Regions from separate parts of the Homo sapiens genome. Here all the other regions are reported to be linked to region 2. The links are microRNA targets in miRTarBase. Many come from high-throughput screens and were not tested one by one. Region 2 holds a microRNA gene; each other region holds the end of a gene's coding sequence.
What was found. The annotated mature microRNA hsa-miR-4797-5p reads GACAGAGUGCCACUUACUGAA and lies in region 2 at 1,323-1,343, opposite strand. An mRNA with a match to its seed (bases 2 to 7 or 8) in the 3' UTR can be bound and repressed. Matches are read on the target gene's strand: a 7mer-m8 pairs with bases 2 to 8, a 7mer-A1 pairs with bases 2 to 7 and ends in A, and an 8mer does both.

Region 1: the mRNA of DOCK7 is a reported target of hsa-miR-4797-5p. The part of its 3' UTR that is shown has no 7-base or 8-base seed match.
Region 3: miRTarBase lists NIFK as a target of hsa-miR-4797-5p. The part of its 3' UTR that is shown has no 7-base or 8-base seed match.

What each region holds. Positions count from the first base shown.
Region 1 is chr1:62,452,984-62,455,983 of GRCh38, forward strand. It overlaps DOCK7 (dedicator of cytokinesis 7), which reads right to left. Exons shown (of 50, transcript NM_001367561.1): 50 at 1,743-2,473. The coding sequence ends at 2,431. Among named protein-coding and RNA genes, the nearest start is that of USP1, 17 kb to the left of the region's middle.
Region 2 is chr3:197,292,597-197,295,780 of GRCh38, forward strand. It overlaps MIR4797 (microRNA 4797), which reads right to left and starts at 1,352; the gene lies at 1,282-1,352. All of the region lies in intron 3 of DLG1 (discs large MAGUK scaffold protein 1), which reads right to left.
Region 3 is chr2:121,725,125-121,728,124 of GRCh38, forward strand. NIFK (nucleolar protein interacting with the FHA domain of MKI67) reads right to left here. Exons shown (of 7, transcript NM_032390.5): 7 at 1,821-2,788. The coding sequence ends at 2,600. It overlaps NIFK-AS1 (NIFK antisense RNA 1), which reads left to right. Exons shown (of 4, transcript NR_037857.1): 4 at 2,679-3,000. Among named protein-coding and RNA genes, the nearest start is that of NIFK, 10 kb to the right of the region's middle.

The sequences.
Region 1 (3,000 bases), not on the chromosome of region 2:
GTTTATACCCACCACTGACCCCCAAAGAAGAAGGGAAAATGTCACTTTTTTTGGAGGGGAGGGATTTCCATTCTTGACTCCTTACCTTTCCTTATTGTTCATTTGGCTCCTCAAATAGAGTTTTGAGGTTATGCCCTTCTGACTCAGATTTGGTCTAACAATGTAGACTCATCTGAAAAATGTTTTTGTGATTCAGTCTTTGAATTGATATAGATAAGAGGAATTTGAGATGATACTGCCCATTAAAGTACATGGAGTGTGGGATATCAACCATCACTTAGGCTCTCAGAAGTAGATATTTTTTAGTATATTTTGAATATTTACTACATTGACTATAGAATGAAGGCAATACGTTAAATCTGACCAGTTTTTGTTTTTTTTTTTTGAAACGGAGTCTAGCTCTGTCACCCAGGCTGGAGTGCAGTGGCGTGATCTCAGCTCACTGCAAGCTCCGCCTCCCGGGTTCACGCCATTCTCCTGCCTCAGCCTCCCGAGTAGCTGGGACTACAGGCTCCTGCCCCCTCGCCTGGCTAATTTTTTGTATTTTTAGTAGAGACGGGGTTTGACTGTTAGCCAGGATGGTCTCAATCTCCTGACCTCGTGATCTGTCTGCCTCGGCCTCCCAAAGTGCTGGTTTTTGTTTTTGACTTAAGAGTCTTGCTCTGTCGCCCAGGCTGAAGTGCAGTGGCGCCATTTTGGCTCGCTGCAACCTCCACTTTCCAGGTTCCAGTGATTCTCATGCCTCAGCCACCCAAGTAGTTCGGATTACAGGCACGGGCTACTACACCTGGCTGATTTTTGTGTTTTTGGTAGAGATGGGGTTTCACCATATTGACCAGGCTGTTCTTGAACTCCTGGCCTCATGATCCGCCTGCCCCTGCCTCCCAGAGTGCTGGGATTATAGGCCTGAGCCACTGCACCCAGCCAATCTGATCAGTTCTTTTATATATATGTGTGTGTATGTATGTATGTGTGTGTGCGTGTGTGTACAGATGATAGTTTTTTTTTTTTTTTTTTTTTTGAGACGGAGTCTCTGTCGCCCAGGCTAGAGTTGCAGTGGCTCCATCTCTGCTCACTCCAACCTCTGCTGCCCGGGTTCAAGCGATTCTCCTGCTTCAGTCTCCCAAGTAGCTGGGATTACAGGCTCCTGCCACTGTGCCTGGCTAATTAATTTCTGTATTTTTAGTAGAGACGGGTTTTCACCATCTTGGCCAGGCTGGTCTTGAACTCCTGACTTCGTGATCCACCCGCCTCGGCCTCCCAAAGTGTTGGGATTACAGATGTGAGCCACCGCACCCAGATCTGGTTAGTTCTTAAGTGATTCATGTAACTGGTCAGTAGAAGAAAAGGATTATAAATGATGCCATTCTGTAAACTGCACTACTACCCAAAAACCATTGTTCTAAACTGTTCTGGAAATCATTACTATGCATCGTTTTGGAAAAACTTGCCAAGAATTAAAATGTTACTTCTCAAATTTTTTTTCTGTATGACTTGCATATAATTTTAGATGAATTAAAGCACCTAATTTTACTTTTTATATGCTTCTAAACTTTACAAGTGTCAGAAAATAGGTAATTTCTCAAACTCCAGCTGTGTTACCTTCATGGTGCTACAAGATAGCTTTAAGTAGATTCTAATTTACTGGTTTACATCGTCAAAAACTGATGGCTGGTTTTAATTTGAAACAGAGAAATCATTCATTTTAGTTGCTAAGAATCATGAAGTTCTTACTACTATCATTGGTGTAATAAGATTTAATCAAGTTAAGGTGTTGTCACTGGTATTAGTTATCCCCGTATTTAAATTATTTTACACAAAGGTTTTACTAAGTAAAGTTCTGCAATTCTAAATTCCTGTTTTGGGTATGTAAATGGAAAATAACTTTGAAACAGTTACCAAACTCATTAATTTGGGGCTATCTATGATTTTTATTCTGCTAGGTTTGGAACTAGTTCTTGAGTCAACCCTTTAATTGTTCTCTGCCATTGTCAATAATAAAAATTTTGAAGTCCCACTCGGTAAAATTAGTGTAAACATTCACATATTTAATAGTACCTTTAAAATAAGCATTACTACATTTAAAATGGTTCCAAAATGAATCTATAAATGGTAATATAAATTAAAAAATACGAACTTAAAGTGAATAAATTTTTAACCTTAGCTATGGTATAAATAATGGTAAATGTATAGTGTACCTTTGAGTCATTAAAATGTCTTAAAAGATAACAGCTTGTTACCAGAACATTAGAAACCATAGCCATGATTCTCAAGCGTTAACAATCTACATTTGATATTTTCTTGGCCACTGCATTCTTCAATGAATAATAATTTCCAGAATTCCATTCCATGTTGTTTTCCAATAGATCTTTTCACACTCGATGTTGAATACATGGCTCTTTGCAGATGAATAAAACAAGTGCATTCAGTTTAGAGATCCATTTTGCGAAGGCTCATTCGACTGAAGGAATCTCTGGGAAAAAAATGAGAGGACATAGTTAGTTAAAGAGAACAATTTTTGCATATACCTTTAAATGTCTTACATGGTTTTTTCTGCCAGTTACCTTAAAGTTTTGCCACCATTTCTTACTAACTTCCAAGTTGGATGCTCATCCTACCTACTCTGCCTTATATTTTGGCTTATAGATTTAGCTATAGAAGTGTATTACAGTCACCACTTACTGGTCTTTTGTATTCGTTTGTCTGACTGATGCTGCAGATATTGTAATAAACAAGACAAGGACTTAAGGGATAATGGGAGAGATTTTAGGAAAAGATTTGGGGTTTTTTACACGGCAAAAGGCAGGTGTTTATTAAATTTTAAGTCTTAAACCAGTTCTCAAACTTTGTCTCAGGTCCCTTTTACACTCTTAAAAATTATTGAGAACCCCAGGAATCTTTTATGTGGGCTATATATGGATGTTTATCATATCAGAAATTAAAACTAAGAACATCTTAAGTTACTATAAAATAACCCATTACATGTTACTATAAATAGCA
Region 2 (3,184 bases):
GTCATACTTTTGAAACTAGTATCTACAAATAAAGATAGGGTAATGTCCTTTTATAAGGGCTAGTGAAACTATTAGATTTTAATAGAGTGGCAACAAATGAACTGGTAACTAAACTCATAAATGGACAGTATTATTACATAATCCACTTTCATTCTGAAATCTCTGCAGAAATAAAACACTGCATTAGAATAAGCTTATTTATTGCAGACAAAATATACAAATCACATGACTCAACTTACTCAAGTCTCTAAAGCCAGCCTAATCTTGGGCCCCAGTTTTTCTCATGCACAAGGAAAGCAGATGAGTTCTCTGATCCCGTAAGAAATAACTGCAGGGGTTTAGACTGGTATGAAGTCTCTATGGACTAGCAGTGTCATCTCAGATCCCACACACCTTAGAATCATGAATGAACTGAAACCACTATGGACCTGAATACCTGGGCTCTGATTATAATCAAACCATATCCCGTCTACTCAAAAAATTTTCAAACTTAAGCACAAAAAACTGGAATACAAAAGCAAGTTTTCAAATTGCTCTCACCTAAATCACAGAGTGAAATTAAGCAGACTTTATCTTCCTTTATACAAAAATAATCACCAGGTATGTTTTGGGAGTAAATTTTAAACAAATGTGCAGTTCATGGACTTTTGTTAAGATACAACTTTAAATATTTAGCTCTAAAGAAACAATACATCAGCTGAAATTCAAAATTAGTAAAAACTTTTCTGCTTTCAATAATTTTTAAATCTTTAAGCCATCCTTCAAAGATACTACCAAGTATCTATCAGCACTAGACCAATGATTTCTATATTACATTGCGAGTATCAATTATAAAATGCACTATTTCATGTGTCAGAACACAGAAACACTGTCAATTAAAAATGACATATACCAGATATTGAAATATTTAACAGTTGGTATTTTAGAACAAATATAATACAGTACGTACATGCTTGTCCCTCTGAATAATCCAAAAGTACAGGAACCTAATCTATGTATCAACTACAGGGGGGGACACCAAACCCCTAGAGACTCAAACTTTTTTAAATGCATGAAAAGTCAATATAAACTACCAGTTCAAAGAATCAATCAATAAATGATCAATGCAGACTGAAAATCCAAAGACACTTGGCACCCCAAACAGATAACTAGATAACTCACTGCGGCCTAAACAAGTGATTTCCAAATTAAGGAAGTGAAAAATCTAAGCACTCAATGACTCCAAACAGCTCAGGTGGCCAAGACCCCTGTTCTCCTTTAATCCAGTGGTCCACAGGTACCAACTCAGAAGACAGAGTGCCACTTACTGAGAGAAAAAACCTTTCAGTAAGTGGCACTCTGTCTTCTGAGTCGGATTTTTCTGCAAACACTATGGACACAATGAACTGGTTTAGCTTAGGGCAGTTTACAAGCTTAAAGTACATTTATGACACTGTTTCAAAACAATGGTAGAGTTGCAAAATACAAAGAAAATCTTATCAGACTAAACATTTTCAGACTAAGTATTAAAAGTTATTCAGGAAACACAAGAGAATGTATTTATTCCGTAGTATCAACAATTATAGCATGGAAACACACAGAACCTCTATTAAACGTTATCTATTTCAAAACTCCTAAAATCTATTACTTGTCTTACACCAAAATGTGATATAGTACCACATCCTATAGAACATTAAATATAAGTAAATTTAAATGTCAAAGTAAATTCACAACCAATGAAATTAGAAGATTCACAAATATAAACTTAGTAATTAGGAAGCTAACTCTAGGCCAGACGCGGTGGCTCACGCCTGTAATCCCAACATTTTGGGAGGCCGAGGTGGGTGGATCACGAGGTCAGGAGATCGAGACCATCCTGGCTTACACAGTGAAACCCCGTCTTTACTAAAAATACAATACAAAAAATAAAAAATTAGCCGGACGTGGTGGTGGGCACCTTTGGTCCCAGCTACTCAGGAGGCTGAGGCAGGAGAATGGCGTGAACCTGGCAGGCGGAGCTTGCAGTGAGCGGAGATCTCGCCACTGCACTCCAGCCTGGGTGACAGAGTGAGACTCTGCCTCAAAAAAAAAAAAAAAAAAAAAGAGAAGAAAGCTAACTCTATCAAAGTTCAATTGTACGTAAGAATAGACACATTCAAAACAGGCAAGGCAGAATAGGTCAAAAATGTCTCTGAACACAGCAAACCCATCCCCAATCTAGACAGAAATATAAATGTAGATTCTGTTATTTCACTAACGATTTAATTTTCTTAAGTTACAGCCATCACACAAAGAAAAGTCTGCAGTCTATCTATCTGCCTATCTATACATATATGTATATATATATCTCTATACTGTTGCGAAAAAACATACTTTTTTTGCAACAGTAACTGCACCAAATTACTAGGCTCAATGTTGATTTAGAAAACAAATAACTAAAAAATGCTTTTTGCTGTTTTTCCAGAGGAATCCAATTTGATCATCCATTCGGACCTTAAACCTCAGAAATTCAAATGTGTAAAAAATGTCCATCAATGTAAACAAAAATGGCAAAATGTGAATTTCTGGAGCTGGGTAACAGTTAAAAGGCAGTTCATTACACTGTGCTATGTATCCTTATGTTTTTAAAAGTCTATTAAAATGTTACATTTTTCAAAATTGTTCAGGTGCATCAAGTGGTCTTTACAAAAATCTTTCATTCTAAAACCGTAGAGAGCATCCATTTATCAATAATGTACCTGACAGGACACACTGACTTGAAAGTAGTCTTCAAATCACACCAACAATTATTCTATCAACAGATAGATGTAAGGCCATATCTGACTGGAAGTTACTGAAGAAATAAATGTAATATAATTAAGTATATGTCTTCTTATGTTAAAATGTTATATAGTTGATAACTAAAACAAAAAAAAAAAACTTCATTCTTAGAATTGGAAGAGACAAACTTTCTAGTTCGGTGGTTTGCAAACTTTTTGAGGTACCTGGACAAAAGAGCCAGACAAGTCACCTTGTTTTATACATAGGAGATTATACACAAAATATGAGATGATGCTTTTAAAAATGATTTATCTACTTAAAAAAGGCTTTAAACCCATTCTGTCATTTCAACAGCTACATTCTACAGCTAATATGGTGGCATAGAAAAGATTAAATGACTTGGGATATATCATTCAATTAGTGGCAAAAGAACTCAGGACTCTTA
Region 3 (3,000 bases), not on the chromosome of region 2:
ATATATAATAGCAACAAAAACCTCATTAATTTTTAAAAATTAAGAAAGCGAAAAATGGCTGGCCTGGTGGCTCATGCTAGTAATCCCAGCACTTTAGGAGGCTGAGGCAAGAGGATCGTTTGACCCCAGGAATTCAAGAACACTGTGGGCAACATAGCAAGACCCGTTTCAATGAAAAAAACAAAAAAGAAACAGGGAAAAACCTAATTAGATAACTGAATTAATTTTGATATATACTTTTCCATTAAAAAAAAGTTTTTTTTACAAAAAATGTCTATAGCTGGCTGGGGGTGGTGGCTCATGCCTGTAATCCCAGCACTTTGGGAGGCCGAGGCGGGTGGATCACTTGAGGTCAGGAGTTCGAGACCAGCCTGGCCAACATGGTGAAATCCTGTCTCTAATAATACAAAAATCAGTTGGGCGTGGTGGTGCATGCCTGTAATCCCAAGTACTCGGGAGACCGAGGCAGGAGAATCACTTGAACCAGGGAGGTAGAGCTTGCAGTGAGCAGAGATTGTGCAACTGCAGTCTAGCCTGGGTAACACTGAGTGAGACTCCGTCTCTAAACAAACAAATAAGGGGGGTGGCAGGTGGCTGTTCAGGAAGGGAGAAATACTCAGTTCATCTTGCCATGTACATGTATGTGTTTGAATGCACATGCCCCTTAAGATCAAACACAACAGACTTATGTCTTCACATGGAGAACCTTGTCTGACGCTTTCCCAGGGGAAACCAGATGTCCAGATCCACGAAGCTCAGAGATGGTTCAAATAGGGCATTATTTAACAAATACATACTAAATCTTCTATGTGCCAGGAACCATTCTAGAGATCTAATCTGCTTTTTGCATGTACTTAAAACCAACTCTATTTTGCATCAGAACACCTAGCCCTGTATCGTATTAAAGACTTAAGAAATGCTAGATGAAAGAATGCTTAGTGGCAATGAATTAAAAAAAAATCTTTTTTAAGAGAGTGATAATGAATTTTTTTTGGTTTGTTTTTTGAGACGGAGTTTCGCTCTTGTTGCCCAGCCTGGAGTGCAATGGTGCGATCTTGGCTCACTGCAACTTCCACCTCCTGGGTTCAACTAATTCTCCTGCCTCCACCTCCTGAGTAGCTGGGATTATAGGCATGCGCCACCACGGCCGGCTAATTTTGTATTTTTAGTAGAGACGGGGTTTCTCCATGTTGGTCAGGCCGGGATTACAGGCGTGAGACACCACACCCAGCTTTTTTTTTTTTAAGAGACAGGGTCTTGCTTTGTCGCTCTGGCTGGAGTGCAATGGTGCAACCATAGGTCACTGTAGCCTCAAACTCCTAGGTTCAGTGATCCTTTTGCCTCAGTATCCTAAGTAGGTGGGACTATAGGCATGTGTCACCATGCCCACCTCATTTTTTTTTTTTTTTTTGAGACAGAGTCTCCTCTGTCACCAGGCTGGAGTGCAGTGGCGTGATCTTGGCCCACTGCAACCTCCGCCTCCCGGGTTCACGCGATTCTCCTGCCTCAGCCTCCCAAGCAGCTGGGACTACAGGTACCTGCCACCACGCCCATTTAATTTTTGTATTTTTAGTAGAGATGGGGTTTCACCATGTTGGCCAGGATGGTCTTGATATCTTGACCTCATGATCCACCCGCCTCGGCCTCCCAAAATACTGGGATTACAGAAGCAAGCTACCGTGCCTGGCTTCATTTTTAAAATTTTTTTGTAGAAAGAGGCTCTCATCATGTTGCCCAGGCTGGTCTCCAACTCCTAGCCTTAAGTGATCCTCCTGCCTCAGCCTCCCAAAGTGCTGGGATTACAGGCACAAGCTACTACATCTGATGGCAATGTTTTTAATGAGTCTGAATTCGTTAATGAAGGGGAAAATTTATTATTTTTTTTTCCCAATGACTCCCAAGTCCTACTCGCAAACAAATACATTGTAGAAAAAAGTTTAATTGCTGGTTATTGTTTGAATCTTGAAATACAATTCTTCACTGATGATACTGGTATAAAATGGTGGTTATTAATTCATGCTAGCACAACCAAAACTAATTTAACATTATTGGTAAAAATGAGTCATTTTTGAATCTCTATTAAAATCTGAACACATAAACAAATCTGTGCTAAAACTGGAACTGCCTTCTCACTCTACATATAATTAAACTTCCAGCTTCAACCATCTGATGTTGAAATCTAAAGCACCTCCATGAGTTAAATGTCCCCGACAAACCATGTAGATGGACAAACAAGATTGGTGGTCTTTAATTGCTGGCGACAGAAAAGGCTGCAGTTTAGTACTTAAACCTGCAGTTAGTGGTCAACTTTCTATCCAGGCAGAGTAAACTAAGGAGAGCTATGAAATATCAAAAGAAAACTAGAGGCCAGGACAAAGAGGCAATGTCAGCCAAGCCACTGCAAGATGGTATGCACCCCTGTATTTCAGCCAAGGGCAGGCAATCCAAAATTACACACTGCTTTCCTTAACTTGACCAAACAGTGTATTTTTCCTCTGAAAATCTTGTCAAAGGTTGTATTCCATTGTACCTAGTGAAATACAAAGTCCACTCTCATAAAAATATTATATTTTTCAAAAGAAATATAATACATTGAAAATCACTGATTGCTGCTTCTTCGTCTTTTTTTCCGTGAATGTGTAGGTGTTTGAGTCTCTTGTATTTCTTCTTTTACACAGGATATGGGCTGTTTGAAAACTATTTCATCATCTTTATCATCATCATTCAGTTCAGCCACTTGAGATTTTCGCCTCTCCAAAAATGTTGGTGTACAAACTGGTGTGGGGCCCTGGATTCAACAAGTAAAGATTATAATACATAAATGTAAAACATGATTATGACTTTACCCAAAAATATCATCTCTCCTCTATTTTTACAAGTTGTGCCCCATTATTTTAGCTCTGTTACCATCTTTTGGTGATACTATTGCAAAGAATAAAGAACTTAGATGCTTATCAAACTTGGTACAGAAATTCACAATTAACAAATATAGCATGTTCC